7 linked regions of the Homo sapiens genome follow. The protein of the gene in region 3 interacts with the protein of the main gene of each other region in a pairwise test. Each region holds a gene or a part of one and is shown on either strand. Other genes may lie near its edges.

What was found.
Region 1: the proteins of COPS3 (region 3) and TOR1A interact in binary tests that used the Homo sapiens proteins (3 or more experiments, as listed by UniProt).
Region 2: the proteins of COPS3 (region 3) and A2M interact in binary tests that used the Homo sapiens proteins (3 or more experiments, as listed by UniProt).
Region 4: the proteins of COPS3 (region 3) and LMNA interact in binary tests that used the Homo sapiens proteins (3 or more experiments, as listed by UniProt).
Region 5: the proteins of COPS3 (region 3) and ELAVL4 interact in binary tests that used the Homo sapiens proteins (3 or more experiments, as listed by UniProt).
Region 6: the proteins of COPS3 (region 3) and FRS3 interact in binary tests that used the Homo sapiens proteins (3 or more experiments, as listed by UniProt).
Region 7: the proteins of COPS3 (region 3) and PRPH interact in binary tests that used the Homo sapiens proteins (3 or more experiments, as listed by UniProt).

The regions. Positions count from the first base shown.
Region 1 is NC_000009.12:129,813,838-129,817,944, forward strand, and holds part of TOR1A (torsin-1A precursor), read right to left. Parts: intron 386-4,107; coding exon 135-385; 3' UTR 1-134. UniProt on the Homo sapiens protein: Protein with chaperone functions important for the control of protein folding, processing, stability and localization as well as for the reduction of misfolded protein aggregates.
Region 2 is NC_000012.12:9,109,156-9,113,262, forward strand, and holds part of A2M (alpha-2-macroglobulin isoform a precursor), read right to left. Parts: intron 3,535-4,107; exon of another isoform or gene 3,382-3,534; coding exon 3,222-3,381; intron 3,057-3,221; coding exon 3,004-3,056; intron 1,180-3,003; coding exon 1,159-1,179; intron 881-1,158; coding exon 712-880; intron 251-711; coding exon 166-250; intron 1-165. UniProt on the Homo sapiens protein: Is able to inhibit all four classes of proteinases by a unique 'trapping' mechanism. This protein has a peptide stretch, called the 'bait region' which contains specific cleavage sites for different proteinases.
Region 3 is NC_000017.11:17,267,480-17,271,586, forward strand, and holds part of COPS3 (COP9 signalosome complex subunit 3), read right to left. Parts: intron 3,530-4,107; coding exon 3,417-3,529; intron 3,329-3,416; coding exon 3,279-3,328; intron 567-3,278; exon of another isoform or gene 499-566; coding exon 406-498; intron 1-405. UniProt on the Homo sapiens protein: Component of the COP9 signalosome complex (CSN), a complex involved in various cellular and developmental processes.
Region 4 is NC_000001.11:156,113,444-156,117,510, forward strand, and holds the start of LMNA (lamin), read left to right. Parts: upstream 1-1,267; 5' UTR 1,268-1,475; coding exon 1,476-1,831; intron 1,832-4,067.
Region 5 is NC_000001.11:50,143,258-50,147,364, reverse strand, and holds part of ELAVL4 (ELAV-like protein 4), read right to left. Parts: intron 2,409-4,107; coding exon 2,168-2,408; intron 1-2,167. UniProt on the Homo sapiens protein: RNA-binding protein that is involved in the post-transcriptional regulation of mRNAs. Plays a role in the regulation of mRNA stability, alternative splicing and translation.
Region 6 is NC_000006.12:41,769,294-41,773,400, forward strand, and holds the end of FRS3 (fibroblast growth factor receptor substrate 3), read right to left. Parts: intron 3,667-4,107; coding exon 3,505-3,666; intron 2,672-3,504; coding exon 2,523-2,671; intron 2,241-2,522; coding exon 1,326-2,240; 3' UTR 883-1,325; downstream 1-882. UniProt on the Homo sapiens protein: Adapter protein that links FGF and NGF receptors to downstream signaling pathways. Involved in the activation of MAP kinases. Down-regulates ERK2 signaling by interfering with the phosphorylation and nuclear translocation of ERK2.
Region 7 is NC_000012.12:49,293,593-49,298,271, reverse strand, and holds the start of PRPH (peripherin), read right to left. Parts: upstream 3,126-4,679; 5' UTR 3,072-3,125; coding exon 2,527-3,071; exon of another isoform or gene 2,095-2,526; coding exon 2,034-2,094; exon of another isoform or gene 1,841-2,033; coding exon 1,745-1,840; exon of another isoform or gene 1,688-1,744; intron 1,557-1,687; exon of another isoform or gene 1,384-1,556; coding exon 1,216-1,383; exon of another isoform or gene 1,125-1,215; coding exon 999-1,124; exon of another isoform or gene 916-998; coding exon 695-915; exon of another isoform or gene 596-694; coding exon 546-595; intron 315-545; coding exon 235-314; intron 1-234. UniProt on the Homo sapiens protein: Class-III neuronal intermediate filament protein.

The sequences.
Region 1 (4,107 bases), on a different chromosome or scaffold from region 3:
TTCCTGTCACATCAAACAGGAACATTCACTGGATTCCTCTTCCAGGGAAAGGAGCTGGGGGTGGAAGTGTGGAAGGACTGAGTGTTGTTTCTTTTCCAACTCCAGGCAGTGACTCCGGCTGCCAATCATGACTGTCAATCATCGTAGTAATAATCTAACTTGGTGAACACCGTTTTGCAGCCTTTATCTGAGAAAACTCTCTCCTCTTTGGGGAAAAATGTCATCTCCTCAGCCACTCTGCTTACAATGTCTTCATCAATTTCATAGCCTCGGGACTGCATTTCCACTCGGATACACATTTTTAGGTGTTTGTATTCCAGGGGGAGGAAGGGAACAAAATAATCAATGAGGTTCCGGTCAATTAAGCTGCTGTGCCAGAAGCCACCTGGGAAGAAGAAACAAGGTGCTGTTCATCCACATCCACCCACCTGCCCTATAGACGCCTCCTGGGGGTCACTTACCTACCCTCCCATCCGTCCCACAAACGTCTACTGGGGGTCACCTATCCATGCCACACACACCTACTGGGGGTCACCCACCCACCCCCCCCACATCTACTAGGGGTCACCCACCCTCCCATCCATCCCATACACACCTACTGGGTGTCATCCACCCTCCTATCCATCCCATACACATCTACTGGGTGTCATCCACCCTCCTATCCATCCCACACATACCTACTGGGTGTGCCCTCTCCCTTGTGGAGCTCCAGATCAGTGGGGAAGGCAGATGTTAACAGGCACCTGCACATTGTAATGCTTCTGTGACAGCAGAAGCTGTGACAGCCCTCTTTACACGGCGGGCTGGGGGAGGCCTCCCAAGGTATGACTTAAGAGATCGAAGATGGGAAAGAGGTCCTGGGGCCCAGGAACAAGCAGAGAGGCAGAGTGGGGAAGGCAGAGTTCCACAGAAAGCGGGAAGCAAGAAGAATTCCCGGGAAGGACTACCAGCCACGCCTCTGTATTTGGGAACTTTTTGACTCTCCCTGGAGTTTCAGCAGCTGGACTAGCAACAGGGAAGCCTGCTGCCGCTGCCACAGTGCCCAGACCCTGCAGAGCATGTGGGCACCAAAACTAGCCTGGAGAGTGCAGATGTGCAGCCCACGCTGGGCTCCCCGTGAAGGCCTGGCCTTGGCCGTGTTTTCTCCCCTGAATGCGGGCTGGCTCTGCACTGACCCGTCCACTCCTCCTGGGCTCCTGGAACTCCTGACCCAGGACACTTCCTCCCAGCCCCAGATGACACAGCACACACTGCGTCGCCCACGAGCCCATGCGTGTCTTCTACTGAGCTGATTCCCTTCTGGTCTGCCATGTAATTCTGGGGCTCCGTCCCCAACCCAAGCTCCTCCTCATTCACTGGGTTAATGCTTTTCATGCCCAACAGTGCTTTGCACACAACTGGTACTCAATAAATGTGTGGCTGACTGACAGAGTGGAGCCTATGGCCAGGGAAAGAACAGAACCAACCACTGAATGGGAACGAGGGGCTGTCTTGCTATCATGAACTCACGTGGGAGGCTGGTTCTCAGAGGCCTGCTCTGTGCCAGGCACGCCCTGGGCCTGGGGACACAGCTGAGGGCAGACGGACCTCACGGCTTTACCACTCTAGGGCAGGAAACAATCTCAGATGGTGCTTGGAGTGGCGAATGCCACACAGCAGAACGGACATGGAGAGCGGGAGGTGGAGCAGGCTGGGCAGGACCTCAGGGCAGAGCCCGAGCAACAAGGACCCAGCCACGCAGACCCAGGAGTGACGGCAGAACAGGTGACCTCAGGCAGCCCTGAGACTTCACAGTCATCTCCTGAGGACTCCCAAGTTTGCCCTCCTGGCCTGATGGCCTCCCTGGAGCTTCGTGGCTCTGCTCTGATGCCCTGATGCCATTGCCCACTGAGCTCGCCCGTCCTTCCTGCTGTCCCTTCCCTTCAATGGCAGTGCCACCCTTCCCATCGCTCAAGCCAGGTCCTTGATTCTTCTCTCATTCCCATATACAATTCTGCAGGAAGTCTTACAGGTTCTACCTTCAAAACACACCCAGAAGCCAACCGTGTCCCTCCACCCCCACCGCTTCCACGCTGGGCTCCCTGCCCCTGTGGCTGTGGGTCTGTCCTCCATCCAGTTGCCAGCAAGGTCCTGTGAAGGCCCCGTCAGATCACAGCACCACCTGCCCAGGACCCTCCAGGCCTCTCTCTTCCACTTGGAATAAGACTCAAGGTTCACCATGGCCCGCCAGGCTTCCCACGGTCTGCACCTCCACCCCAAATCTCGCCTCTTCTATCACCTCCCGTTTCCCTCCTCTGTTTATCCTCAACCAGTCACAGGGACCCCAAGCACAGGCCCCCCTCGGGCCCCTGGACGTGCTGTCCGCACTGGGGAATGCTTTTCCCTCAGACATCCACATGGCTCACTCCCCCGGGTCAGCCCAAATGCCACCCTCACAGGGAGCCTTCCCTGTCCACTCTATTAAAGCAGAGCCCATCCTTACCCTGAACCCCAAAGCCTTTCTTGATTTTTTTCCCCTACTGGCCCCGGGGGGAAAGATATCTATATGTCCACATGTGTACATGTGCGATGTGTGCATATGTACTGCATGTATACACACAAACACATCACACACATCAACATATCTATCCCCCATCATCTGATACATTTTCTTTCTTTATTATCACTAGGATGTAGGATTGATAAGGGCAAGAATTTCTGTGTTTGTTCACTGCTGTGTCCCCCGTCCTAGGTATGATGCCTGGCACTTACCAGATGCTCCATATACATGTGCTGAATCAATGTTCAGCCATCTGCCTGAGGTCACAGTCAGTCTGTGGGCCAGGGCTGCCCGACTCCCAGGTTGGCACTCCTAAGCACCGTGTAACCTCCACAGCGTGGATTCTAGGCCACGGGGCTCATCTGCCTCAGCATTAGGCTAAAGTTTCCACTGCATGTGCTCATGTTTTTTGGCAAGGCAAGAAACTATCCAACATGTTACAAAATACTTGTCTTTCCTCAGTAGTATTCCACTTGCACACACTGACATACTGTACCCCATGCTGTTCACTAACTGTAGGATTAATTTCTTGGCAAGTCTGTTTCAAATGAGCCCTTCTGTTTTGTCATCTCCAGAACCTGAAGCGCAAAGACTTGAACAGCCAGCCCTGCACAACTCACAGGTCTTAGCCAGTGAGTCAGCCTCCATCAGGCTGGCTTTCCACCTCCCCAGGTTCAAGGTCAAAGGTCTCATGACATTTGGAGAAGTAGTGAGCTAAAACTTAAAAGCTCAGGTTTTAGAATCAGAGATACCGAACAGGCTGCATGGCCCTGGGCAAGCTGCCACATCTCTGAGTCTCAGTCTCTACCCTGCGAGGTATGGTGAAGACTGAGTGAAATCCGCAGGCAGGCTGTTTCACACGGTGCCCAGTACAAAATAAGGGCCGAACCGCTATTTGGCTGTTGCTCTTGGGCAATGCAGAGAAAGGGAGGAACTAACAGGTCATCTCTCCCCCTGAGCTGCCCACGGCATCCTTCCTTGCTCAACCACTGGCTCTTTCTTCTACAAAGAAAATCATGTAGCTGAAGAAAATGGGGGAACTGGCCAGGCGTGGTGGCTCACGCCTGTAATCCCAGCACTTTGGGAGGCCGAGGCAGGCGGATCACGAGGTCAGGAGATAAGACCATCCTGGCTAACATGGTGAAACCCCGTTTCTACTAAAAATACAAAAAATTTGCCGAGTGTGGTGGCAGGTGCCTGTAGTCCCAGCTACTCGGCAGGCTGAGGCAGGAGAATGGTGTGAACCTGGGAGGCAGAGCTTGCAGTGAGCCGAGATCGCGCCACTGCACTCCAGCCTGGGCAACAGAGCGAGACTCCATCTCAAAAAAAAAAAAAAAACAGCAGGCCAGGTATGTAGCTCATGCCTATAATTCCAGCACTTTGGGAGGCTGAGGCGGGAGGATGACTTAAGTCCAGGAAGTCAAGACCAGCCTGGGAAACATAGGAAGACCCAGTCTCTACCAAAAAAAAAAAAAAAAAAAAAAAAAAAAATTAGCCAGGCATGGTGGCGCAAGCCTGTGGTTCCACCTACATGGGAAGCTGAGGCTGGAGGATCACTTGAGCCTAGG
Region 2 (4,107 bases), on a different chromosome or scaffold from region 3:
AAATAGAAAAGCAACAGGAGAATAACATTCTACAGATGAGGATGCTGTCAAAGCACTTAAAATTTTTGTGTTGCCACTGCTCCCGGAGAGAGTAGTTAAAATATCCCAAATGGTGAGTCTCTTTTAAATAATCCCCCACAAAAGATTTTTAAAAAATGAACTCACAGGCCACACACTGATACATTCATCTCTTCTTCCAAGATGGTGATTATCTTTGGCACTGTTACTTGTACTTCAAACTTGGGAAGAACTGTTGATTGGTGATAAAGAAGGTTGGTGATTGGTTTTCAACTTTGGGGGAATTCCTATTTTCAGGTTCCCTGTAACAGTTCCCTAATAATATTTTAGGGCTCTGAAAAGGTAGCTCTGCTCTCCAATCTATTCTTATCTATCCTCCTCTCAAATGAAGATTTCAGTTGAGGGACTATGAGAGATCACTGTGTGCTTAATTAATTATGGAAAACTCCATTAAAACAAGAATGTTTTAATTTTGGGGGTTGGTATTAAATATTGCTACAGAAAATAACGAAGCTATGTGAAGTCCTATTCACAGATCACTGATGTCCTCATTGGACTTAGGTGTAATTAATTCTACTCCAAGCCCAATGTCACCCATGGGAAATGGAAAGACTCCAAATGAACTTAAATTCCAGGACCTAAGAGTTTAAATATGAAGAAAAATAATGCTTGATGACTTTTCATGATCCATACCAAATTCCTCCACGGTGAAAGGGTGCTCTGTCCTTCCACCTGATTTCTTCTGTACCACCACCTTGTAGGAGCCCTGGAAGGGCTCTGATGAGAGGGGAAAAGAAAATTGCTTGAGGCCACCCTCTAACTGGAAACTCTGCCATTGTGCGATGCGATTTCCTTTGGGATCCTATATGAGTAAATTAATTATAACTTACAAAAGCACCTGGAGCATTGGAGCTAATAAAAGATATCTATGGAAACCCTAAGTTATCTACAAAAAGGTCAAATGGGGTAGTAGTAAAGGGTGAGTAGAGGAGATGAGTTATAGCCATCTAGCTCTATGGGAGTTTGAAGGCTTCTCCTTTAATGACAAGTTTCTGAGATATTGTAAAAACCTCTGAAATAAGAACATTTTCCCTATATGTATTGCTTTCCTTTTAATATGGAATGTTTCATGTTGCTTACCTGAATGTATACTAGTGGAATCTGAAAGACAAAAGAAAAAAGAAGTTTATAATTATTTTCAAATATTCTTAAATCTCATTTATAAGCAAAGCAGCTAGTATTTGCTAGCATAACAGGGTGAGTATAGTAAAAAATAATTTAATTGTACATTTAAAAATAACTAAAAGTATAATTGGATTTGTTCGTAACACAAAGAATAAATGTTTGAGGGGATGGGTACTCCATTTATTGATACAGGCATGCAATGCATGATAATAATCATTATCCATGATTGGATAATGATATGGATAATGATAATGATTATCATCCATAATCATTATCATGCACTGCATGCCTGTATCAAAATATCTCATGTAACCCATAAATATATATACCTGCTATGTTTCCACAAAAATTAAAAACAATAAAAAGTTTAAAAAATCTAAATTAGTTTCATATAGAATAATTCCCTCTATAGTGAAATACAGAAATATTCCAGATTAAATTTTATAGAACTTTTCATTAATCTATTTTAAGCAATTAATAAATAATGTTAAGAACTTACTAGGCCTTCAGCAACAAATATACATGTAAAGTGCCATTTACTAAAAATGGATTAACATGTCTTAAGTGCTTATAGCATCCTAGTGAAGATCAATCCTTTGCTATGCAATTTTACAGGTTGAGAAATAAACACTTATGTAACTATAAGTAAATATGTTCAGATGTAATCATTAAGATGGGTCATAGAATTCTTACGTAGTTCTAAGAATGAGGAGGAATGGACATATTTCATTAATAAATTTAGTTTAATAAATATTACTTTTAAAAATGAATAAACATTGATAAGAAGCTACTATGAATGTTTATTCATTTTTAAAAACTAATCTTTATTAAGTACCTTCTCATGCGCTGTGTATCATTCTAGGTATTGAGAATATAACCACGCACAAAAGAACAATAAACCATGTTTTAATGGAGCTTATGTTATAATAGAAATAGGCAGATTTTTAAAAATCAATACGTATAGAATGGTGGTAAGTGCAAATAGAAAAACAAAGCCAAGTTAGGCTGACAGAGTGATGGGTGTGGTGCCTCATTTTAGACAGAGGAGTGAAAGTAGAAGCTGGGAGACCACTTTGAAGGTTATTGTAATGATCTTATTTAGAGATGACATTGACTAGGACTAGCTTGCAGCAGTAGTTCAGATGATAAGAAATAGTCTGAATATATTTTAAGCCAACATGATTTTCCAGTGAAGTGGATGTGGGTATGAGAGAAAGAGAAACAAGAACTAGGCCATAATCTTTTGTCTTTGGAGCTAGAAGAGAAGAGTTGCCTCTTTTTGAGATAAGAAAATGTGAAGAAGTTAATTTGGGAGAGAAAAATGAAGACTTTGGGTTGATGTCTGCATTACAATAGAAAGAACTGTTTCTTATCACAGATACCAAGAGTTAGTCTTGAGGAACAAATTAATTACCCTGACTTTCCTTTATAGTGAAGATTTTGGTAGATGTGTATAGAAAAAATCTAAATCTTTAAAATGTTTTTTGAGCTTAGGTTCTTTGAGGATTTTTCTGTGTCTGCTATTGAATGTATCTTTCTAATTGTCCTAATTAAGAACCATCCGAAAAGTAAATTTAATTGTGTGACAACTGACTGAGTACCAGCACCAAGACAGAAAGAATTACCTACTTTCTTTACCTGGAATGATGTTTTAGATTAGGATCTTGTGCTGTTGTAATGCCAGAAGTTACTGTTAATGATACCAGATTCTTCCTCTCCCTGGTCTTCCCTCAGCACAAAAAACAGGTTCCCAGCCTGTTTATACAGACAATCATTTTATGTAGATAATAGAAAACTCACCAACTCATTCAGGGGGTGAAAGTTTTCATCCATGGAGACAACACGAAATTTCACTGAAACAGAAATATTTTTCATGAGCCCCCAAACCCAAAGTAGGCCTGTAGGCTGGTAAGACAAGCTATTAAGGAACCAAGATTATAGGAACTTTGCCTGGGGAACATCCAGGGGAAGAAGATCTTTCCTTTTTGAAGTTGTCCTGTCTGTAGGCTTCTTCATACCTGTCTGCCCTGGTTTGTAGATTGATTTGTCTGTCTGGACAAAGACCAGACTGTCCTCGTTCTTAACCATCACTGTGGTCCGCTTCTTAAATTCTTGGGTTGGTCCTTTCACTTGGACAGTGAGGAACATTACCTCCTCATTGGATGAAGACTTTGGGACCTGAAATACAGGACCGATCCTGAAACCCCATTCAGCACCCGCAGGTCTCCTCCCCTATTTGCTGTTGCACTCTTCCCTGGAGATCTTGCCCTTCTTACTTAACTTCACTCCCTTGTTCTCAGCAGGGAAAGTTGGCATGGACAGGAATCACTTCTGCCATTTTACAAATGGGGAGACAGGACACAAGGTGGAGGAAAATAAATCAGTAAGAGAGGTTGTAAGTGAGATTCACACCTTCATACAGCTCACAGAAACAGTCTTGATTCAATTATACGCTGAGCTTTACCAGGCTGATATTACATGCTAAAAGGGCATGGTCGAAGCATGTTTTACAGGCTATGGAAAAAAACCCCGTATTTTACTGACACTAGGCTGTAAGCATCTCACATGTGGACAACTCTGAAGAGATATTACACCTTTGCTCAGGGTAATTTCTACAATTTTTACTCTTAGAAGTAGTGTGGAGTGATGTGTTCCTGTCAGTCCACCACGGGTGGCTCATGTTGAGCCTTGGTCTAGTTTGCTTTATTAATATTTTTTCCATCTTAATTTTAAGAAGTCACATTTTCTTTTTTTTTTTTTCCTTTCTGGCTAATAGGGTTTCTATGTGATTATTAAGCTGACTTTTAGTTTGCCTGTAAATATTTGTCTCCCATGGCTGGAGAGTCATGCATTGCTCCTTAATTTCTATACTTAGTTTGCTACATTTGGATTCCTTCCTGCAGT
Region 3 (4,107 bases):
ATACAAAAATTAGCTAGGCTTGGTGGTGGGTGCTTGTAGTCTCAGCTACGCGAGAGGCTGAGGCAGGAGAATTGCTTGAACCCGGGAGGCAGAGGTTGCAGTGAGCTGAGATTGTGCCACTGCACTCCAGCATGGGCGACAAAGTGAGACTGTCTCAAAAAAAAAAAAAAAAAAAGTTACAACTATTAATTACCCTATCTGTTCGACAAGCTTACTAGTTGAGCCCCATCCTACAGTTTGCATCCAGCACCCGCCTGAATGTAATAGATGTACCTACATATTCCAACTTCTATAACACATCACAATATCGCCAACTTGCCTGTGTTTATCAAACCCAATGTTGAGCAAGCCCATAAACAACCTACACCTCTGACTTGGTGTGAATCACACACTTTGGTTGCTTACCTGGCAGAGATCAGCATGTATTGAGGTCAGCTGGTTTGTATTCATCTGCATCTTGTCTATGGCTTGCTTAAGGATGCCAATTCCTCGCAGGGGCTGTCAGAAATGACATCTCTTTCAGATAAGTTCTCAAAGATGGCAGCACATTGGATCTTATGTTGTCACTTATAAATAAAAAATAACACTAATTGATAGGTTCCTTTAAATAGCAATATGAGGTTTCCATACTCTTTCAGGAAATTTCTGTCCCATTTAAGTCAGAAAACTTTTCTTAAGCTGTTTCTTGGAATTTTTAGATAACTCAGCACCATTTTTTAAATCATAAAAAGCTTTTATTTTTACAATGAAGATCAATAATCAAAAACAGTATTACTTTCTCAACAGTTTATTATATTAACATCTAAACAAATGAAAACTTTCCAAATCACTTATTATACAAGAGACAACAGCCTATGCTTAGGAAAATTACTTGTGGCTAAGGGTGTTGGCATTTTCCCATAGGGCAGTCTACCCCTTACCTGGTAGTAAATTACTACCAAAACTAACACCATAGATTTCAAAAGGACTGTTTCCTGCCCTGATTATAAATAAGAAGACCAAGTGTCAAGTAAGGCATAATCAGTTTTTGGCAGACTAAAATATAGTCTCTTCCAAAATTGCTGGGCACGGTGGCTCACACCTGTAATCCCAGCATTTTGGGAGGCCAAGATGGGTGGATCATGAGGTCAGGAGATCAAGATTATCCTGGCCAACATGGCAAAACCCCATGTCTACTAAAAATACAAAAATTAGCCGGGCATGGTGGGATGTGCCTGTGGTCCCAGCTACTCAGGAGGCTGAGGCAGGAGAATCGCTTGAACCCGGGAGGCGGAGGTTGCAGTGAGCTGAGATCGCGCCACTGCACTCCAGCCTGGGCAACAGAGCAAGACCCCATCTCAAAAAAACAACAACAACAACAACAACAACAAAAATATATATATATATATGTGAAGAGACTAAAAATAGCTCAATAACTTACAGCTTTTTCAAAAACTCATGATTTTTCTTAACCATCTCTTTCAAACATGGTTACTTAGTACTACAAAATAACAACTGGTTCTATTTTCAGCCTCTTTCAAACCACTAATCTTAAATTTACTTTCAAATTAAAAAGAAACACCTGGCTGGGTGAAGTGGCTCACACCTGTAATCTCAGCCCTTTGGGAGGCTGAAGCAGGCGGATCACCAGAGGTCAGGAGTTCTAGAGGCTAGCCTGGCCAACATGGCAAAACCTCACCTCTATTAAAAATACAAAAATCACTGGGAGGCCGAGGCAGGCGGATCGCCTGTGGTCAGGAGTTTGACACCAGCCTGGCAAACATGGTGAAACCCTGTCTCTACTAAAAATACAAAAATTAGCCGGGCATGGTGTCAGGCACCTGTAATCCCAGCTACTTGGGAGGCTGAGGCAGAAGAACTGCTTGAACCCAGGAGGCGGAAGTTGCAGTGAGCCGAGATTGCGCCATTGCACTCCAGCCTGGGTGACAGAGCGAGACTCTGTCTCAAAAAACAAAACAAAACAAAAATCAGCTGGGAAAGGTGACATGCGCCTGTAGTCCCAGCTACTCAGGAGGCTGAGGCACGAGAATCGCCTGAAGCTGGAAGGTGGAGGTTGCAGTGAGCTGAGATCACACCACTGCACTCCAGCCTAGGCAACAGAATGAGACTCCATTTCAAAAAAATAAATAACTAAATAAATTTTTTAAAAATCCACATTATAAATTATGTATTATAAAAGATAAAGAATGAAATAACTGTTCAGATTAAGGGACACTAAAGAAACAAAGCAGTCTAATGCAATCCATGGTCCACGGTTTTCTTTTGCTATATAATATATAGTACACTGTCCAAACAGCTAATGTCCTTTTATAGCAAAAGACAGTCCTTTTCACTGGGGGAAAATCTAAATGGGGTCTGTCAATTTGTTGATGCATTATATTAACGTTCATTTCTGGGCCGGGCGTGGTGGCTCACGCCTGTAATCCTGGCACTTTGGGAGGCCAAGGCGGGAGGATTGCCTGAGCTCAGGAGTTCGAGACCAGCCTGGCAACATGGTGAAACCCCGTCTCTACTAAAATACAAAAAATTAGCTGGGCGTGGCAGCATGCACCTGTAGTCCCCAGCTACTCAGGAGGCTGAGGCAGAAGAATTGCTTGAACCTGGGAGGTGGAGGTTGCAGTGACCAGAGATGGCGCCACTGCACTCCAGCCTAGGCATCAGAGCGAGACTCTGTCTCCAAAAAAAAAAACAGTAAGAGTTCATTTCTGGATGCTGACCATTACACTATACTATGTAACAGAATGTCCTAATTTTTAGGCTTTACCCACTGAAGTATTTAGGGATAAAGAACAGCAATAGCATATGTGCAACTTACTCTACAATGGCTCAGAATAAAAGAGGAAGAGAAAAAAAAAAGAATAAGTGCGGTAAAATGTTAACATTTGGAAAATCTAGGTAAAATGTATGAGAATTTTTTATATTATTTTTGAAGCTTTTTGTAAGGCTAAAATAATGTCCTAATTAAAAGTTAAAAGAAAAAATGTAACAGACAAAACCCAGCATATTACAACATAAAGGGTACTGGCTTGGTAATTCCAACTACTTGGTAGTTCCAGCAGCAGCCTCCCTGAGGTGCCAAACCACCCCGTGCCTCCACCTCATTCAGGGGATGCGGGGACTGCCTGAGCTTACAGCAATGGCTGTGAGTGCTCTCAAGTGACCACAGATATCTAGGTGGTGGATGCTCAGTACTAACTGGAATCTTGATAAAGTAATTCATTGTGTAAGCTAGTTACATATTATAACAAAACTAGGAATACTTGAATAGTATTTCTTACCTGTTTTCTTTCCACAAGTGCATTTGTTAGCTGATGGCAAAGCCCAGCAACTAGATACAATAACAAAATATTCAAAATATAAATATAACCACAAGGGCAAAATATTTTCAATGGAGAATAAAATGTTATTTAGCTTACAAGTGTCTGTTGCATATCGAATGTGCTCCCCATTACAAGTGCTGATGAAGAGCTGAACCTGTGAGAATAGCGTTTCGAAGTCAGGAACACTGGGCATAGAAAACTTCACAAACCTAGAATAAGGAGAAAAGAATCAAATTACCCTGATAGTTCATGGGATAAAATACAGAAACAATGTATGCAAGAAATCCATCCTGCCTCCAATACTCTGTAAAATTAAATGAGCAACAGTATTTTTTAGAATTAAGAACTAGGCCAGGACAGTGGCTCATGCCCGTAATCCAAGCACTTTGGGAGGCTGAGGCAGGAGGACTGCTTAAGGCCAGGAGTTTGAGACCAGTCTGAGCAACATGGTGAGACCCTGTCTCTACTACAAAAAATAAATTAGCCAGGCGTGGGGGTACATGCCTGTAGTTGCAGATACTTGGGAGGCTGAGGCTGGAGGATCACTTGTGCCTAGAAGGTTGAGGCTGCAGTGAGCTATGATCATGCCACTGCACTCCAGCCTGGGTGACAGAGCAAGATCCAGTCTCAAAAAACAAATAAATAAGAACTAGAATCCATGAGATTTTCCTGACCTGGTTATTTTGCACAATCACTATACAGAACGGACACAAATAAGGGTTAAGAAAAATATGTTTAGGCCTGGCGCAGTGGCTCATGCCTGTAATCCCAGCACCTTGGGAGGCCA
Region 4 (4,067 bases), on a different chromosome or scaffold from region 3:
CCAGAGCCTGAGGTAGCGAACCCTGGGGACCTGAGTGATCTCGTTTTGTGAGAGAGCCTGGCCCCTCCCCAGAGCCAGCTGCAGAATGGACCTGGCCAGAGAGGAAAGTAGAGATGAGTATGGTGCTGGCCTTTGCAGCCAGCAAGGCTGTGGGGTCTTTGCTGTTCCTGTCCCCCACTACCTTCTTGCCCCCCACTACCTTCTTTCTGGCTGAAACCAGGATAGAGACCCAATATTGGCTGTCCAGCCCCCAGCCCTGCTTCCCCTTTCAGGCCCCTCTGGGAACCACAGAAATCTGGGACCTAGTGTCTTGGCAACGTAATGAATGCATGCACAGCTCTGGTATCTGTTTTAAATTATCCATTAAAATAAGTACAGTTCTGGGGGAAAAAAATAAGTTGACTGGGTGCGGTAAGCAGTAGAAAGGGACTGAAGGGGGAAGGAACCCAGGCAGTGCTTGGGTCCAAAGGAAGGGGACAGGAGATGGAAGGGGCAGTGCCTGGCTCCTATTCTTGGCTTTCTTTAGGGGACTTCTTTAGGGGACTGTGGCTTGTTGCTTGGGTCTAAAAACGAATGCTTGGCTTTGAAGAGAGATAGATTGGGGCAAAAGAAAGAAAAAAAGGGACCCCCCAAACTCCTTGATCCCTGGCCCCAAACTGGGGGCATAAAGGAACTCAGGTTCCAGAACTTTGCTCCCCCCAGGGAACCCAGGCATTCCTTCTCCACCCCACTCCTGGCACACTGAGATGCAGCTCTGAATGGGCTGCCCACGTGTGGAGGGGGGTTGGGGTGACTCACTATTACTACTGGGAGGACAGGGGGAGCCAGTGGTGGAAGAAGGGTGAGTCACACTGATGGGCACCAGCCTCAGCCCTCCCCCCACTTTCCTGGCTCCCAGCCCTGCCTACCTGACCCTCTCCCTTGCTTTGCGCCCACTTCCCTCTCTTTCTCCCCGACCCTTTTGCCCACCCACTCTCCCTCCTTGGCTCTGCCCTCTAGCCCAGAAGGTCTGAGGCAATGGGGGCAAGCTTGGAGCCGACAGTGCTGAGCAGGCAGGAGCCAAGAGAGGGGAAGCTTGAGCCTCACGCAGTTAGGGGTGCGCTGGAGAGGGTGGGGCCCGACTCCGCCACACCCCAACGGTCCTTCCCCCTCCTCACCACTCCCGCCCCCACCCCCAATGGATCTGGGACTGCCCCTTTAAGAGTAGTGGCCCCTCCTCCCTTCAGAGGAGGACCTATTAGAGCCTTTGCCCCGGCGTCGGTGACTCAGTGTTCGCGGGAGCGCCGCACCTACACCAGCCAACCCAGATCCCGAGGTCCGACAGCGCCCGGCCCAGATCCCCACGCCTGCCAGGAGCAAGCCGAGAGCCAGCCGGCCGGCGCACTCCGACTCCGAGCAGTCTCTGTCCTTCGACCCGAGCCCCGCGCCCTTTCCGGGACCCCTGCCCCGCGGGCAGCGCTGCCAACCTGCCGGCCATGGAGACCCCGTCCCAGCGGCGCGCCACCCGCAGCGGGGCGCAGGCCAGCTCCACTCCGCTGTCGCCCACCCGCATCACCCGGCTGCAGGAGAAGGAGGACCTGCAGGAGCTCAATGATCGCTTGGCGGTCTACATCGACCGTGTGCGCTCGCTGGAAACGGAGAACGCAGGGCTGCGCCTTCGCATCACCGAGTCTGAAGAGGTGGTCAGCCGCGAGGTGTCCGGCATCAAGGCCGCCTACGAGGCCGAGCTCGGGGATGCCCGCAAGACCCTTGACTCAGTAGCCAAGGAGCGCGCCCGCCTGCAGCTGGAGCTGAGCAAAGTGCGTGAGGAGTTTAAGGAGCTGAAAGCGCGGTGAGTTCGCCCAGGTGGCTGCGTGCCTGGCGGGGAGTGGAGAGGGCGGCGGGCCGGCGCCCCTGGCCGGCCGCAGGAAGGGAGTGAGAGGGCCTGGAGGCCGATAACTTTGCCATAGTCTCCTCCCTCCCCGGAACTGCCCCCAGCGGGTGACTGGCAGTGTCAAGGGGAATTGTCAAGACAGGACAGAGAGGGAAGTGGTGGTCTCTGGGAGAGGGTCGGGGAGGATATAAGGAATGGTGGGGGTATCAGGGACAAGTTGGGGCTGGGGCCGGCCTGAATTCGGTCAGATTGGGATTTGCCAACTATTTGGAGCCGGGGGGAGGGGCTTGAGCAAAACAGAACTAGCCCTGCCAGCTCGAAGAACTCTGGGCACCCAGGACACATCGGAGTGGCAGAAAGGGTCCTGTTAGAACTTTGTTAGCGGGCTTGGCACTGTGCTAGCTTTGCCCAAGCTGGCTCTGAACACATGATGCCCACTAAGACATAACTCTCAAGTTGGCATCTGTCCAGCGTGTTGGAGCGAGGTCAGGAAGGCAGGGCAATCCCCCTTTTCCCTCCCAAGGGCTTGGCGGTGGCCCCCCCTCAGCATGACCTTGTCCTGGGTTCTAAGGGTTGGGAAGTTCTCCCTCACTCTGCCACTCTGCGTGTCTGGGACCTTCCTTGGGCTCTGACAGGCCCACCAAAAGAGCTCCGGGAGATGAGAGATCGGCTCCCCCGCAGCTCCCACAGCCCTTGGCCTGCTTGGCCCAGGAATGCAAGGGAGGGAGGGAGGCAGAGGGCAGAGGCTCCCAGCTCAGGAAGTTGTGTTATGCCCAGGTCTGGCCGCACTCCTCCCTTGGCCCTCTGCCTAGTGTCTTCGAGGGTTGGGGGCACTGTCCTTCCCTCCTTGGGGTGAGCCACTTTCATTTTCCCAGCGGGGCCAGGCAGTCTTTGCTCGGGCCCATCCTCTTAGCTGCTGACGTTTTGATCTTTGTCTTATTGAAGTGCTGGAATACAGTGACATTTTTGAAATCCAGCCGTTGGAAGATTCAGGCCACTCCCACTTTACCCACCCCTGCCCCACCCTACCCCACCCTACTCAACTGCACCTTCTTCTTTTCTAAAAAAGCCTTTGGGAGCTTGGAAGTATAGGCCCTCTCTTCCAGCCCCATCAAAATTTGTTTCCCTTCTTCCTGCCTTCCCTTTCTCTATGCAGACCCAGGCCAAGAGCACTAAGGGTGCTTGGAGATCCGTAAAGGGCTGTTGGCTTTGACTTCTTCTCTCTCTTTTATCATCTACTCCAAACTTCTGCTCTTCCTAGAACCCTTTGCTAGGTGTGGTTTTGTTGCCCAGGCTGGAGTGCAATGGCACAATCTCGGCTCACTGCAACCTCCGCCTCCCAGGTTCAAGTGATTCTCCTGCCTCAGCCTCCCGAATAGCTGAGATTACAGGCATGTGCCACCATGCCGGGCTAATTTTGTATTTCTAGTAGAGATGGGGTTTCTCCATGTTCGTCAGGCTAGTCTTGAACTCCCAACCTCAGGTGATCCACCCGCCTCAGCCTCCCAAAGTGCTAGGATTACAGGCATGAGCCACCACGCTGGGCCCATCACCCTTCTTTCTGAAGAGTCAATGGAAGTTGTGTGTAGGAAGACAGGCTTAACGGTTTTTTTTTGAGACAGGGTCTTACTCTGTCACCCAGACTGGAGTGAAGTGGTGCGATCTTGGCTCACCACAACCTCTGCCTCCCAGGCTCAAAAGATTCTCCTGCCTCAGCCTCCTGAGTAGCTGGGATTATAAGTGTGTGCCACCACACATGGCTATTTTTTTTTTTTTTTTTTTTTTTAATTTTTAGTAGAGATGGGGTTTCACCATGTTGGCTAGGCTGGTCTCAAACTCCTGACTTCAAATGATCCACCTGCCTCGGCCTCCCAAAGTGCTGGGATTACAGGTGTGAGCTACCATGCCCGGCCATCAACCTTTATTTTGTTTTTTTGAGACGGAGTCTTGCTTTGTTGCCCAGGCTGGAGTACAGTAGTGTGACCTCAGGTCACTGCAACCTCTGCCTCCCAGGTTCAAGCCATGCTCCTGCCTCAGCCTCCCAAGTAGCTGGGACTATAGGTGCCTGCCACCACGCCCGGCTACTTTTTATATTTTTAGTAGAGACGGGGTTTCACCATGTTGGCCAGGGTGATCTCGAACTCCTGACCTCAAGTGATCTGCCTGCCTCAGCCTCCCAAAGTGTTGGGATTAG
Region 5 (4,107 bases), on a different chromosome or scaffold from region 3:
TGCTAGAATTAATTAGGTAGTGTAAATGAAGAATTTAATAAGCACTCTTTACAACCACAAGTTTTACTTCTATTAAACACTGCTGTCAAATGAGGGCAAATATCTCTGGTCTCTCTCTATATTTCCCTGCCTCATTCCCATAAGCTCTCTACAAATAAAAATTTTTTGGGCCTGAATTTAAGAAGAATGCATAATTATAAATTTATGCCTGAATTGTATTTCTGCTTTCAACCCCATAAGCTTCTTCTTTAAGCTCAGATGCTACTGTATGTCTCTGCTTGTGCTGGAGAGGGTGCTAAACAAACCAAAGTTGACAATTTTGGTTTTGTATACCAAATTAAAGGCTGTCTTCGAAGCTGTCACTCCTATTCAAATCCACTCGGTGAACTACCAAATTAGCATTCTTTCAGTAAAGGAATCTGCTTGTTTAAACATGTGTCTTTAGAAAACAAGGAACAACACCATGAATCAGTACTTCTCAAAAATCTCGCTACAGTTCTGAAGGAATTCTGAAAAGGTGATTAATAATATTCACTAATATAGCTGGCAGAGTCTGTATTTTGAAGGTAAGGCTATACTAAAAATACATTTTCTATATAGGAGTAGGAGGAAGAATCATATGGTTAACTGGTTTTAATTTGGTTTGAATTATCATCCTATTATATAAAGATTATTCAGGAATCTAAATATTGGCTTTCTGAACGTATGGGAAATTCTGTTTAAGGATAGATGTTCCAGTGCTCTGGTACAAGATAATCAAAGCCTGGCCCTATTTGGAGAATTTGATAGATACTTTTTTTTCTGTTCTGGCCACTTTCCTTGAAGCATACTAGCTGTACTTACAATAATAGATTTATTTACTGAGGGACCACTGTGCAGTAGACATTGTGCTAGATGCAATATATCTAGTCTCTCATTTAATCCTCACAATAAGCCCTTTGAGACAAGCATTATCTTCCAGTTTTTCAAATAAGAAAATTATGTCTGGAGTGTTAGGTGACTTGTATTTTGGAAAGTAGCAGTGGTATTTAAGTTTTATGATTTTGCAAACTACTTAATTTATAAGGGGAACAGATTTACATGTGAATTATGAGAACAGAAGAATGTATATATCTACACACACACATATAGAATGTATTCTCTGATTTAAAATAAAGATGATGTATATCCCTATTTTAATGATGCAGCTTCCTTTTTAAAAAAAAAAAAACTCTAGGACAGTTGCTGATTAATTAAACTGTCTAGGGAAAGGGAAACAAAAGTCAATACTCAAAACTGACAAGTATTCAAAGTTGGATATGAATGATTTCAGGAGTGGAGTATCAGAGAGTAGCAGCTTCACTGCCATCATTATGTAGCCTAATATATTCCAAGAAAATATTCTCACTGCCAATAAGATTATAGGGAAACTTTCCCCCAAAGAATTATAGTGTCAGTGTCTGGCAAACATTTGGTTCTCAATGAACAGTTGTCAATTAGGAGAAAATCAGAACCTAAAAATCTCATGTATTGAAGTTGTATAGGGTGTTGATTCACTTTCAAGTAAAAATGCCCTCACATCTCAAAGAGTATCTTCAAAACGAACAGACAGATAAAATAAAACAAAATACCTCAAATGCAGATCTTCATTAAGCATTTCCCTCCTACTGCAGAGTAGTTGTATTCCAGAATAATCTGCTATCCTTAGGGCCTGTTTCTCCCCAGGGACAAGGGCAGTTGTGTCAACTGTCCACACATCCACAGTGGCCCCCTTTAAAACACTTGTTTCAGGCACATGGAAGAACACTGGGCACACATGAAGCAAATATTGAGAGGAGGAGAATACATGAGCAAAAACTAGTGTATAGTATAGGGAGGGCAGAGTTGTGGGACTGGAAACTATAGAACAAAGGGAAGGAATGGCTGATTAAGAATAAAAGGAGACAAAATCAAAGGATCATTTTACATGAAGATGAAGATGTACCAAAATCTTCATCTGCTCCCCAGCAGTACCAATCTACAATAAGGTCTTATGTGGTGTATGTAGTGTGAGTTTATGACTGTGTATCCATGCCATCTTGCATGCAGGGTACATGATATAGACATTCAGGTGCACCATCACACATGTGCATTTCTGCTAAGATCTGCACATCTAATGGAACAACATAGCTTCAAATCCTGTGCATACCTGTAATTTTGTCTCTCACAAGTTTGCAGGATTCTATTTCACCAATGCTCCCGAAGAGACTCCTGAATTCTTCTTGGGTCATATTCTGGGGTAAATAGTTGACGATGAGGTTGGTTTTGCTGTCATCTGTGGTTGCCCCTGTTTGCATGGGAGAAGGACAGTTTCTGTTGTTGCTGGAGGGTCCATTGCTTGTATTGGATGTCGGACCATTTGACACCTGAGGCTCCATGGTGCTAATTATCTAAATAAAAATAAAAACAATTGAAAAAGCCTTTTGAAATCTCAGACACAAAGTCTCTTTTAAAAGTTTATTAATTTTTTTGAAAAGAAAGAGAAGAAGATAAAGCAAGATGGAGCAAGAGACTGGGTTGTGAACACAGCCAATTTAGAAGCATGTTTTTAACCAAAATGTTAAACTCCTCTTTCTATTTTTAGGCCAGCCCATAGATTTTGAACACAGACTAGAATGCAGTAGGAACTCTCCCATTATTTTGTTAATGAAAAGCTAATTCCTGTTTTCATTACACAATCACTCTCAGAAATGTATACTTAAGCCACACCAAATTATAATTAAAATGTAAAGTAATAATCATGATTAAAATTATAGTTCCATTAAAGCTGAAAAAGCTAAATATAGAGGACTACACTCACAAGATCAAATACAGTACCTGTTTATTAACTATCTCATAAAATAAAATGACATTAAATTAAGTGGGGTTGTTCAATATGGGAAGGGTTTAAATTTTCACTGATGCTTAATCACTGATCAAATTTTAGATTTTACAGGTACATTCTAGGGAGCTGCAAAGTCATCTAATGTCTTTTTTTTTTTAATCTAGCCATTCTGTTATTGTTTCTCCCAGACCTCTAATAAAACAAAAAACATGGAGGCAAACTTTTCTCTAGGTCTCCACGTTAGGTCCAGCACCGCCTGAGGCTGTCCACTCACATATTACTCAAAAAGGACTTTCTCTTGATTAAAATATTTAATTAAACAAAGATTTCTGGCTGGTGTGAATGTTCCAGGTAGCACGTATGAGAATAAAGAAATGAATGAATCCCTATCCTCAGGGAGCTTATAGTCTATAGAGGACACAGACAGGTAAACAGCTGGTATAGGGCAGTGATCATGCAATACAGAAGCAATTACTTCTGCTTATAGGATAGGGAGATTTAGGGACAGTTCTGAGAAAATGCTGGAATAGGGTTTTATATGAAAAATGAGTTTAAGCTCATGAAGTCAGGTCATGAAGATGCCCTGTATGGAATGACAAACATGGAGAATTGCAAAATTGCAGAGCCAGAAGGCACATAAGGGAACAAAATCTAGCTCAACACTCACATTCGAGATGAAGCCCAGAGATGTCCAGTTACTTCTCTGTTATCATAGAAAAATGGGGGCAAAGTCCAGGCCTGCACCCGGATTTCCTGGCCCCAAACGCAGCCCATAATTCGCAACTTTCCATTTTGTCTTACACCGTCCTCTATTTGTCCATCATAAAATGGCTTCCATCTCCTCAGAAACTGATCATCAACTCCTTGGAAATGAAATCATACTCTGCCACTTACTAGCTGTGTGACCTTGGCAAGGGACTTAAATCCTAAGAGTCTTCATTTTCCTCATTTGAAAAATGGGAACAATGCCACCGTATGGCAAAGCGGTAAGAACCGATCCAGTGATATGACTTATGTAAAGCACCAGAACAGTGGTGGGCACATAACCACAATCACTGATGTTTATTAGTTACTCTGCCAATCATCCAATGTGACTTCTCTCACTGTCTCCTCACAAGAAGGCAATGAAGCATATTCTAATATTCTCTATGTCTTATAGATGAGGAAACCAAGGCATAGCAGACATCTGATAACTAGTAGCTTCCATTATTATTACCATTTGCCTGCTCAGAGGATTTAGGGGGGAAGCATTTTCATTTACTATA
Region 6 (4,107 bases), on a different chromosome or scaffold from region 3:
AAGACACTTAGCAAGCCAGATTATCTAGTTACACATTACACTGTATTTTTTCATTTTGCTATAATCCTAGGATTTTAGTAAAGTCCTGTTTAAAGGTTTGGTCTTGACTCAGCCATGCTGGGGGCAGCTAAGGAGGATCCAGGATCCATCTCTGGGCCAAGGTGGTAAAGGACAGCAGTGCCCTTTGGGGCCTGCCTATTGGCAGGGGCGTCAGTGAGGGCTCCCCAAGAAGGCGAAGGTGTCTCTTCTGTAGCTGTGCCCGCTCCGCTGCACTCCTCACCTGTTACCAGCCTCAGAGGGCTGGGCTCTACCTCATTAGGGCAGTCCTCACAGGCTCCCCTTTTGGCTTCTAGGACTCCAGCCATCCCACCCCTTTCCTTCAACAGAGCATCCATCCCTGGCAACTGTAGGTTCATGACCAGGGCTTCTTGGAGGAGAAAAATAAATGACTGGCCGGGCGCGGTGGCTCACGCCTGTAATCCCAGCACTTTGGGAGGCTGAGGTGGGTGGATCACCTGAGGTCAGGAGTTTGAGACCAGGCTGGCCAACATGGAGAAGCCCCATCTCTACTAAAAATACAAAAATTAGCTGGGCACGGTGGCAGGCACCTGTAACTCTAGCTACTTGGGAGGCTGAGGCGGGAGAACTGCTTGAGCCCGGGAGGTGGAGATTGCAGTGAGCTGAAATCACGCCACTGCACTCCAGCCTGGGCCACAAGAGCGAAACTCTGTCTCAAAAAAAAAAAAAATCATGGACTTGTCACAAAAACCATAACTGACCCAAATTCCCCAGAGTGAAGCCCTTACCTCGATTAGGCCTGCCCTGTGTCCAACCCAGGACCACACCAGAAAAGATTCCCTAAGAAGATGATATCCACTGGGCCAGAATTTAAAAATAATTATATTAATAATAAATATGTTAAATTACATTTAAAACAATAAATAGAAAAATAAACTGATAAATAAAATCAACAGGTACAAAATGTTTCAAAATTCCAACCAAAAAAAACACACACGGACAGTCGGCAGACAAGACAAATGGACAGAACGGGAGGGCGCTAAACGCAATCACAGGAACCCTTCACAGTTGACGTCTCGGCTCCCTCCTCGCCTGGTCACCCTTCTCTCCCCAGCCTGGAGACAGACCAGGAGACTCGGTGGCTGATATCTCTGGGGACTCCAGCCAGCACAGGGAAGCATCTGGTCCCACCTCCATGCCTTCTGCAAAGCAACCCTGAACCCTGGGGAGGGTGGGTTCAGAGGACAGGAGTGTGAGGCAGAGGCTGGATCATGGTGGGGCAGAGGGTGGTGAGGACCGGGAAGTCCCTACAGAGGCAGGTCGGTGCTGTTGTGCCGGGTTTTCCTGGCGGTGCCATCGTCTCGGGGCAGAGCTCTCTGCAGGTTGGACATGGCCACGGTCTTTTTGAGGTCAATCACGGCGTAGGAGTCTGAGCTTCGGGCAGGGTGGGTGGTGGGCATGGGGGCTTGGGGGCTCGAGGGGTTCTGGGGCCCCTTAGGGCGGTCTCCACCCCAGCCCTTTAGCTCCACCTGGATGTAGTTAAGCTGCCTTGGGGGCTCGGGCCCCGGCCGGCGGAAATCAAAGTTGAAGACCCTTGGGGAGCCGCGGCGGCGGGTCAGTGGCACAGGAAAGCTGCCGTGGCTGCGGATGGCGGCCCGGGTGCTGGTGGGCTTCTGCAGTGGGGTCTCGTCCTCCTCACCATCAGGGAAGCCATTGGAAGAGGGTGTGAGCCCATCCCTCGAGTCCCCATCATCCCCAGCCTCCCCTCCCAGCTGCTGGGCTTGGCTTTCCCACACAGGGGGCAGTGGGGGCAGGTTCTCATAGTGCAGCAGGGCGGCCCGGCGGTGGGCAAGGCCATTCCAGCCCGGCTCCTCTGGGCTCAGTCTCCAGCCAGCCCCTCGCCACAGCCCCCCGGTGACGTTCTCGTAGGTGCACTTGGGCTGGGCTGGACACTCAGAAGGGGCCTCATTGTTATTATTGTGGTGTGGGGGGTCATGCAGGCTGGGACAGAGGCCCTGGCACTTCACCATGTGCCGCCGAGCAGGGGTCGGGCCCAACACAAACTTCACCTGGCCTGGCTGCAAGAACACCTGTGGGTCCCGTTGGTCAGGTCCCCGGGCCTGCGGGAGGAAGGGTGCCTGACCCTCAGGCAGGGGCTGCAGGCAGTGGCGGCCCCTGCGGTGGTCATCTTCACTGGCCGGTGTGTTGACATAGGTGTGGGACTGGGGAAAGAGTCCAAGTGAGGCAGGAGTGTCCCAGGGCAGGGAGAAAAGAGAACAGAAGGGACAGGATGAGAGAAAAGAAGCACACAGAAAAAGACCTGGAGTTTCTTCTTCCTTGTCCTCCAACCCTTCTGAGGAAGCTGCTCCCTTTTGGGGACAGGAAGGGACCGTTACAATGTTCTTCCCCTTCCCGTGATCCTTACTGGGAGGAGGTGGCCTTATTTCCTATCCCTCGTCCCCACCCAGACCAACAGGGCAGGGGCTGGCCGGCTGCGTGCTCACCTGCTCATCAGGAGCAATGAGGGCATGGGTGGACTCTTCCCCAAGCGAGGGGTGCCGCAGGCTGCTTGTCGAGAGCCGCCGGGGAGCTGAGAATCGTGGGCCCTCTCCAGGGCAGCCATTGGAAAAGCTGGAGACAGTGTAGCCTAGAGCTGAGCACACGGGAGACAAGCCCAGGAGAGGGGAACTTAAGCCACCTGACAACCACTTGCAGCTGTGTGTGTGGCATCCTGGGACTCCTCTAATGGAGGACAGATGTTCTCAGGGCGTCACAGTGGTTAAACCCCACTGAGCCACCAGCCCCCCATTATCCTTCATCTTTCCTCTGCTCTTCAAACCCTGCCCTTTCCCTCAAGCTCAGCTTGAAGCACCTCACCACTGTCTCCATTATAGCCTCACCCGAAACGCATAAAGCACATCTTGCTGTCACTGGACCGTCCCTTTGCTTCATTCTAGGTCTGCCAGTAAGGTCCAGGGAAGCTCCTCAAAAAAAGGGACTGCGCTTCTATTTCTCCTGTCCCCCATGGGCCAGTCCAAGGAGCGCTGAATACCAAACAGGTACCTGATCTGAATTCAATGACTGAATAAGCAGAAATTGTAGGACCCTCTCCAGAATACGGTCATGGCCAGAGATGCCTGCACCAGCAGCAAGGAAGGTATATGGGGATGACCCAATAGACAGAGGAAGAAAGCAAAAAAACTCCAGACTGCCAATTCTACGGAAACCCAAAGTCTTCCTGTCTGCTCCCCAACCATCAGTCAATACAAGGCCCAGAACTCAACAACCTCAGTTTGAGTCACCTAGCCCAGCCCAGGACTTACCGATCCTCAAGAATGGTTCTGATCATGGACAACTGTCCTGGAAGGTTGGCTCACCCAGCCTTCTCCCAACCAGCCAGCTTAACTAGTCCCTCAGATTTGTGCTTCCTGGGCGTGTGTGTGTGTGTGTGTGTGTGTGTGTGTGTGTACACTGGGGTCTCCTCACCATTGGGTGGCTGGGGGGCTCGAGGGAGGTCAAGCTCAGCGGGGTGGCTATTGCGGGTGATGATGACAGGCTCTTCCATCACATTGATGCTGTTGCACTGCATCAGATCCTGAAGGAGGTTGAAGATTTCCTCAGCCCGGGAACACTTAAATGCAAATATTCCTGGAGAAGGAGAGGAAGAAATGACCCTAGGCAATAGGGAAGGACCAGAGGAGCTCAACAGATGCACAATGTGCAGGAAATGTCCCTCAACTCCAGTCCCAGGCCTGTAGGGGCAGGAGAGCCTCTCCTCATCTTGAGCATTCTTTTTCTTTTCTTTTTTGAGATGGAGTTTTGCTCTTGTTGCCCAGGCTGGAGTGCAATGGTGCGATCTCAGCTCACTGCAACCTCTGCCTCCCAGGTTCAAGCAATTCTCCTGCCTCAGCCTCCCAAGTAGCTGGGATTACAGGCGCCCGCCATTACACCTGGCTAATTTTTTGTATTTTTAGTTGAGACGGGGTTTCACCATGTTGGTCAGGCTGGTCTCAAACTCCTGACCTCAGGTAATCGGCCTGCTGCGGCCTCCCAAAGTGCTGGGATTACAGGCGTGAGCCACCACGCCTG
Region 7 (4,679 bases), on a different chromosome or scaffold from region 3:
ATATGATGGGCACAAGCCATTCAGCGCCACCCTCCATCCTACTCCTTTGGATCATAGAGCCCCACTCCCTGGGGTAACCAGCAGAGGCTCCTGGTTATCTATCCACGTTCTCTGTCTCCTTCTCTGTCTCTCCCCAAGAATTACCCACCCTAAGTAAGATTAGCGACAGCCAGGCTGGGGCTCAGAAATAATATGGGAAATGGTGGGGTCCTGGCATTAGGGGACCTGCCTCACCTCCCCATTCCGGGTCTCAATGGTCTTGATCAGAACCGTCTTCCGGCTGTGGCTGTCCTGGGGAGGCTCCACCTCAGGCACTGAAGAAAGCAGGATAAAGGGTTCAAGGGGGAAGGCGTGGGAATCTCTCCTCTTAGGCTCCCACTGCTATCCCTGAGGGCAGGGGAGGGGCGGGTTTGAGGAGTAGGGGTGGGTACAGGCCAGGACCCAGAAGTTCCGTGGGGAGAAGAGATCCCTGAGGTGAGCCAGAGCAAGAGCCCGAGGAGGGCAGAAGTGGACAAGGAGAGGTACAGGCTGTAAGCCAGACTCACCAGTCGTCTTTATATTTAAGGAGGCAAAAGAATGGACGGGCACGGAGATCCTAGAGGCGAAGCAAGTTGTCAGCGCCCCTGCCCAGGCCCCGCCCTGCCCGGCCCAGTCCCGACCCCGCCCTGCCCCGCCCCAGCAGCTCCACCCTCACCGGCTCTCCTCGCCCTCCAGCAGCTTGCGGTAGGTGGCGATCTCGATGTCCAGGGCCATCTTGACGTTGAGGAGCTCCTGGTACTCCCTCAGGTGCCGCGCCATCTCCTCTTTTAGCTGTCGCAGCTCCTCCTCGAGCCGCGCAGCGCCCGCCTGGTAGCCCCCCGCCTCCAGGGCGAACTGCTCCTCCAGCTCTCTCAACTGCCTGAGCAGCGCCTCGTTCTGGGGTAGGAGAGTGGAAGGGGCCAGTTGCAGAACATTTCATCGTCCGCTCCCCGGGCCCGAGCGCGCAGCTTCGTACTCACCGTGCCGCGCAGCCCGTCCACCTCGCACGTTAGACTCTGGATCTGGCGTCGGGACTCGTTCATCTCCTGCTTGGCCTGGCGCAGGGCCTCGTGGTTCCGGTTGGCAGCGTCGGACAGGTCCGCGTACTGAGAAGTGGGGGTAACCCAGGCTTTAGTCGGCTGGGACGCGCGACACCACCCCAGCGTCCCGCCTCGCAGGCCCTCCCGGCTCTTGCACCTTGGACTTGTACCACTCCTCCGCCTCCTGCAGGTTCTTCGCGGCGATGCTCTCGTACTGCGCGCGGATGTCCCTCAGCGCTGCCGTCAGCTCGGGCTTCACCGTGGCTTCCACCTCCACCTGCTGCACCTGCTGGCTCTCCACACTCACCTGCAGGTCTCGCAGCTCCTACGGCCGGGAGCAGGCAGAGGATGGACAGCGGCGCAAATTCCACGCGGGCCACGCAGTTCGTGCACAGAAAAGAGAAGAAACGCTTGAACGAACAGAAGTGGGCGCCAGGGAGGGCAGGGCGTACAGCCCTGCGCCCCCGCGGGCGCGAGACCAGAGGCCAGGTTTCGGAGGTACAGCCCCGCTGCCCGCCGCCAGGTGGCGCAAGGGTGGGAGTCTAACCACCTGTAGACTAGGGTGGAGGGGCTGCGTCTACCCAGCATCGTCCTGATCCCCAGGGCGATGCCTCCGCTCCACCCGCCAGCTCCAGCGAGACCACCCCACAACCTCAGAAACCGCCCCTGATACCGGGCCCACTTACCTCCTCGTGCAGCTTCTTGAGGAACTCAATCTCATCCATCAGAGACTCAATCTTGCGCTCTAGTTCCAGGCGGGACAGAGTGGCATCGTCCACGTCCTTCGAGGGGTGGCAGTGGAGGTTCAAGATAAGTTAGGGGCTGCGCAGACCAAGGAAGGACCAGGCCTTCCCTGTCTGCCTCAGGAGGCATCTGGGTTACCCCCTTCTCCCCGCGCCCACCGATGCCACCTCTGGATACTGAGATCGGGGGTAGCGGTGGGGAGGCTGAACTCGGAGAGGGGCTCGGACTCACCTTGCGGAAGAGCACGAGGTTGTGCTCCGCGTCCTCCCGCTTGCGCGTCTCCTCCTCCAACCTGACGGGAAGAGCGTGCAGAGGCTGAACTGCGGGGTCGCCGCCCAGCTCGCACCCCAGACCGCACGCCCCCCAGGATCCGGTTAGAGGCTGTTCTGCTGCCCAGGACTCTAAATGGAGGGCTGAGGCTGTCTAATGGAATTGCCCCGCATTGTCTCTAACGGACTGGGAGCTGAAAAGGGGGTTTCCTCATTACTCAGGGGAGGCACAGATACCCACTTCTCCCACCTCCCCAAACACTCAGAGCAAAGGGGTAGCGGGGGGCACTTGGAGCCCGTGGGCAGGGATGCTGCCCGCACACACCTGGGTTGGTAAGGGGAGCCACACCCTTGGGCTGCTGATGGAGAGGGGAAGCGAGGGGAGGCAAGAGCAGCCGCCTCGACGGCCGCTTCGACCTCGCCTCGACGGCAGCGGCCCAGCCCTGCCCCCTGACCTCTGCTTGAGCGCCGCCAGGTCCTCCGCCAGCCCGTCGCGCTCCACCTGCACCCGGTCACGCTCGCGGCCCAACAGCTCCAGCTCTCGCCGCAGCTCGCGCAGCTCCTGCTGGCACAGCTGGTCGGCGCGCGCCGGCTCCTGGCCCCGGGCTTGGCTCAGCTCCCCGCGCAGGGCCGCGTTCTGCTGCTCCAGAAAGCGTACCTTCTCGATGAAGTTGGCGAAGCGGTCGTTGAGCTCCTGCAGCTCCTGCTTCTCGTTGCTGCGCGTGGCCAGGAACTCCTGGTTGAGGGCCTCGGCCATGGAGAAGTCGAGGCGCTCCGAGGGCAGGCGCAGGAGGGCGCCCGCTCCCGCTCGGGGGCTACGGAAGCTGCCCAGGCGCACCGAGGAGCTCGGGGACGCGGAGCCCAGCAGGCGGCTGCTGGAGAAGCGGGAGCTGGACGAGTAGGAGAAGGCCCCGGGGGATAGTGAGGGCGGTGGACCGAAGGTACGGCGGTATGAGGTGGAGCTGAAGCCGGCCCGGAGGCCCGACGGGTGGTGGCTCATTGCGGCCAAGGATGGGCAGTCACCGTTCGCAGAGCTAGGCCGGGGGCTGGGAAGGAGCCGCAGACCGCTGCGAGGCGGCTTTATAGCCCTGCGGTCTCAGGGGGGGCACGGGCAGCTCCTCCCACTGGCCTGATGGCCCGCTGGAGGGGGGTTGTATGGGGAGGGGGATGCCCCACCCCTGCGGAACAGCAGGAGCGCCTTCCCCTCCCTTCCCTGGTTGCAGGCCTCTACCCACTTGATTGCCCCCTGTTGCCGCTGGGGTGGGGGTCACTTCCTCCCAACAAGCACCCAAAGCTAGAACCTAGGGTAGGAAGGCCTGACTTGAACTAGAGTCCCTGAAAATTGCGAGGTAGAAGGACCTGAAGTTAAAGGGCAGGCTTCTGGCACAGGAGTAGGGAGGAGGCCAGCTGGAGGGAGAGTTGACCTGGCTTAGGCCCCATAGCTAGTGCCTTGACTTGCCCCCTGAAGGCCAGGCTCTATTTTCACCTGCTGTCAGCTACCCCTCCTTCACCACACCCAGAGAGGAATAGGAGACAGGGGCGCAGAGGCAGATCGGGCTGGGGAAGAGCTACTCTCCCTAATCCCCAGGGCCCTGTGAAGGGCTGGTGCCTGGCGCCAGCTCTGCTGCTAATGGGCTGACCAGCCCCCCTCCCCCTCCCCTGAAGACGGCCCAGCAGAGGTTGTCTGCTGATGTTTCAGCCTTAAAGACACAGCCCCCAAACCTAGACCTACCCCGCAACAAGCCCCAATGAGGTGGGTACATCATAGGGGGCTGAGGGTGGCTGGACCCAGCTCTGGATCCCACTCGGGAGGGTCTGCCCCATGCCACGGGCTGGGCTAAGTGGGCCTTTTGTATTCTGTCTTGGTTTACTGGATTCTCCCTCCCCCCAACCCCACACCAATTGCTGCTCAGTCATGGGCTTTACAGGAACCAGAGTGATTCCTGAGGTAGGAAGGGGAGGGGGCTGAGGGGCAACAGCGGCTGCCAAGGCTGAGAGATGGATGGACTGGCAGGAGCTGGTTTCCAGTATTGATGAGTTGCAGGTACCAGGGATGGGTGGGGCTGGATGGGGAAGAGATGGGGAAAGAGAAAGTGCCCATCCCCAGCAGTCTGAAAGAGAGAAGGCCCCAGAACAGGTCCACAAACCTGCGCACGCAAACAGATGCATACACACAGCTTTGTATATCTATGCGCACACACACTACATACACACACATACACACACAATCACACATCCCACCACACCCTCCCCTACTCCAGAGTTAGCGAGAAGGCTGATATCTGGCCTTTGTATGTCAAACAGCTTCCAGAATGCAAGCACAACCTGCCCAGGAGTGGACAGAGGCAGCTCGGATGGTCTGCAGGAGCCGGGTTGCTGAGGTCTGCTGGGTTTGCCAGGAACCATAGGGCTGGGGCTGCTGCTGCTGCTGGGGACTCCAGCGCTGTCCTGTGAGACAGGTCTGCCTCAGATGGGACCTGAGGACAAGAGAGTGCATCTGGGGAAGCAGGTTTCAGGTTCCTGCCTGGATATCTGGCTGGGGGTAAGGAGGGCGGCTCCCTGGCTGGCCAGCTCCTCAGTATTGCAGGGCAGCAGCCCCCTCCCCCCT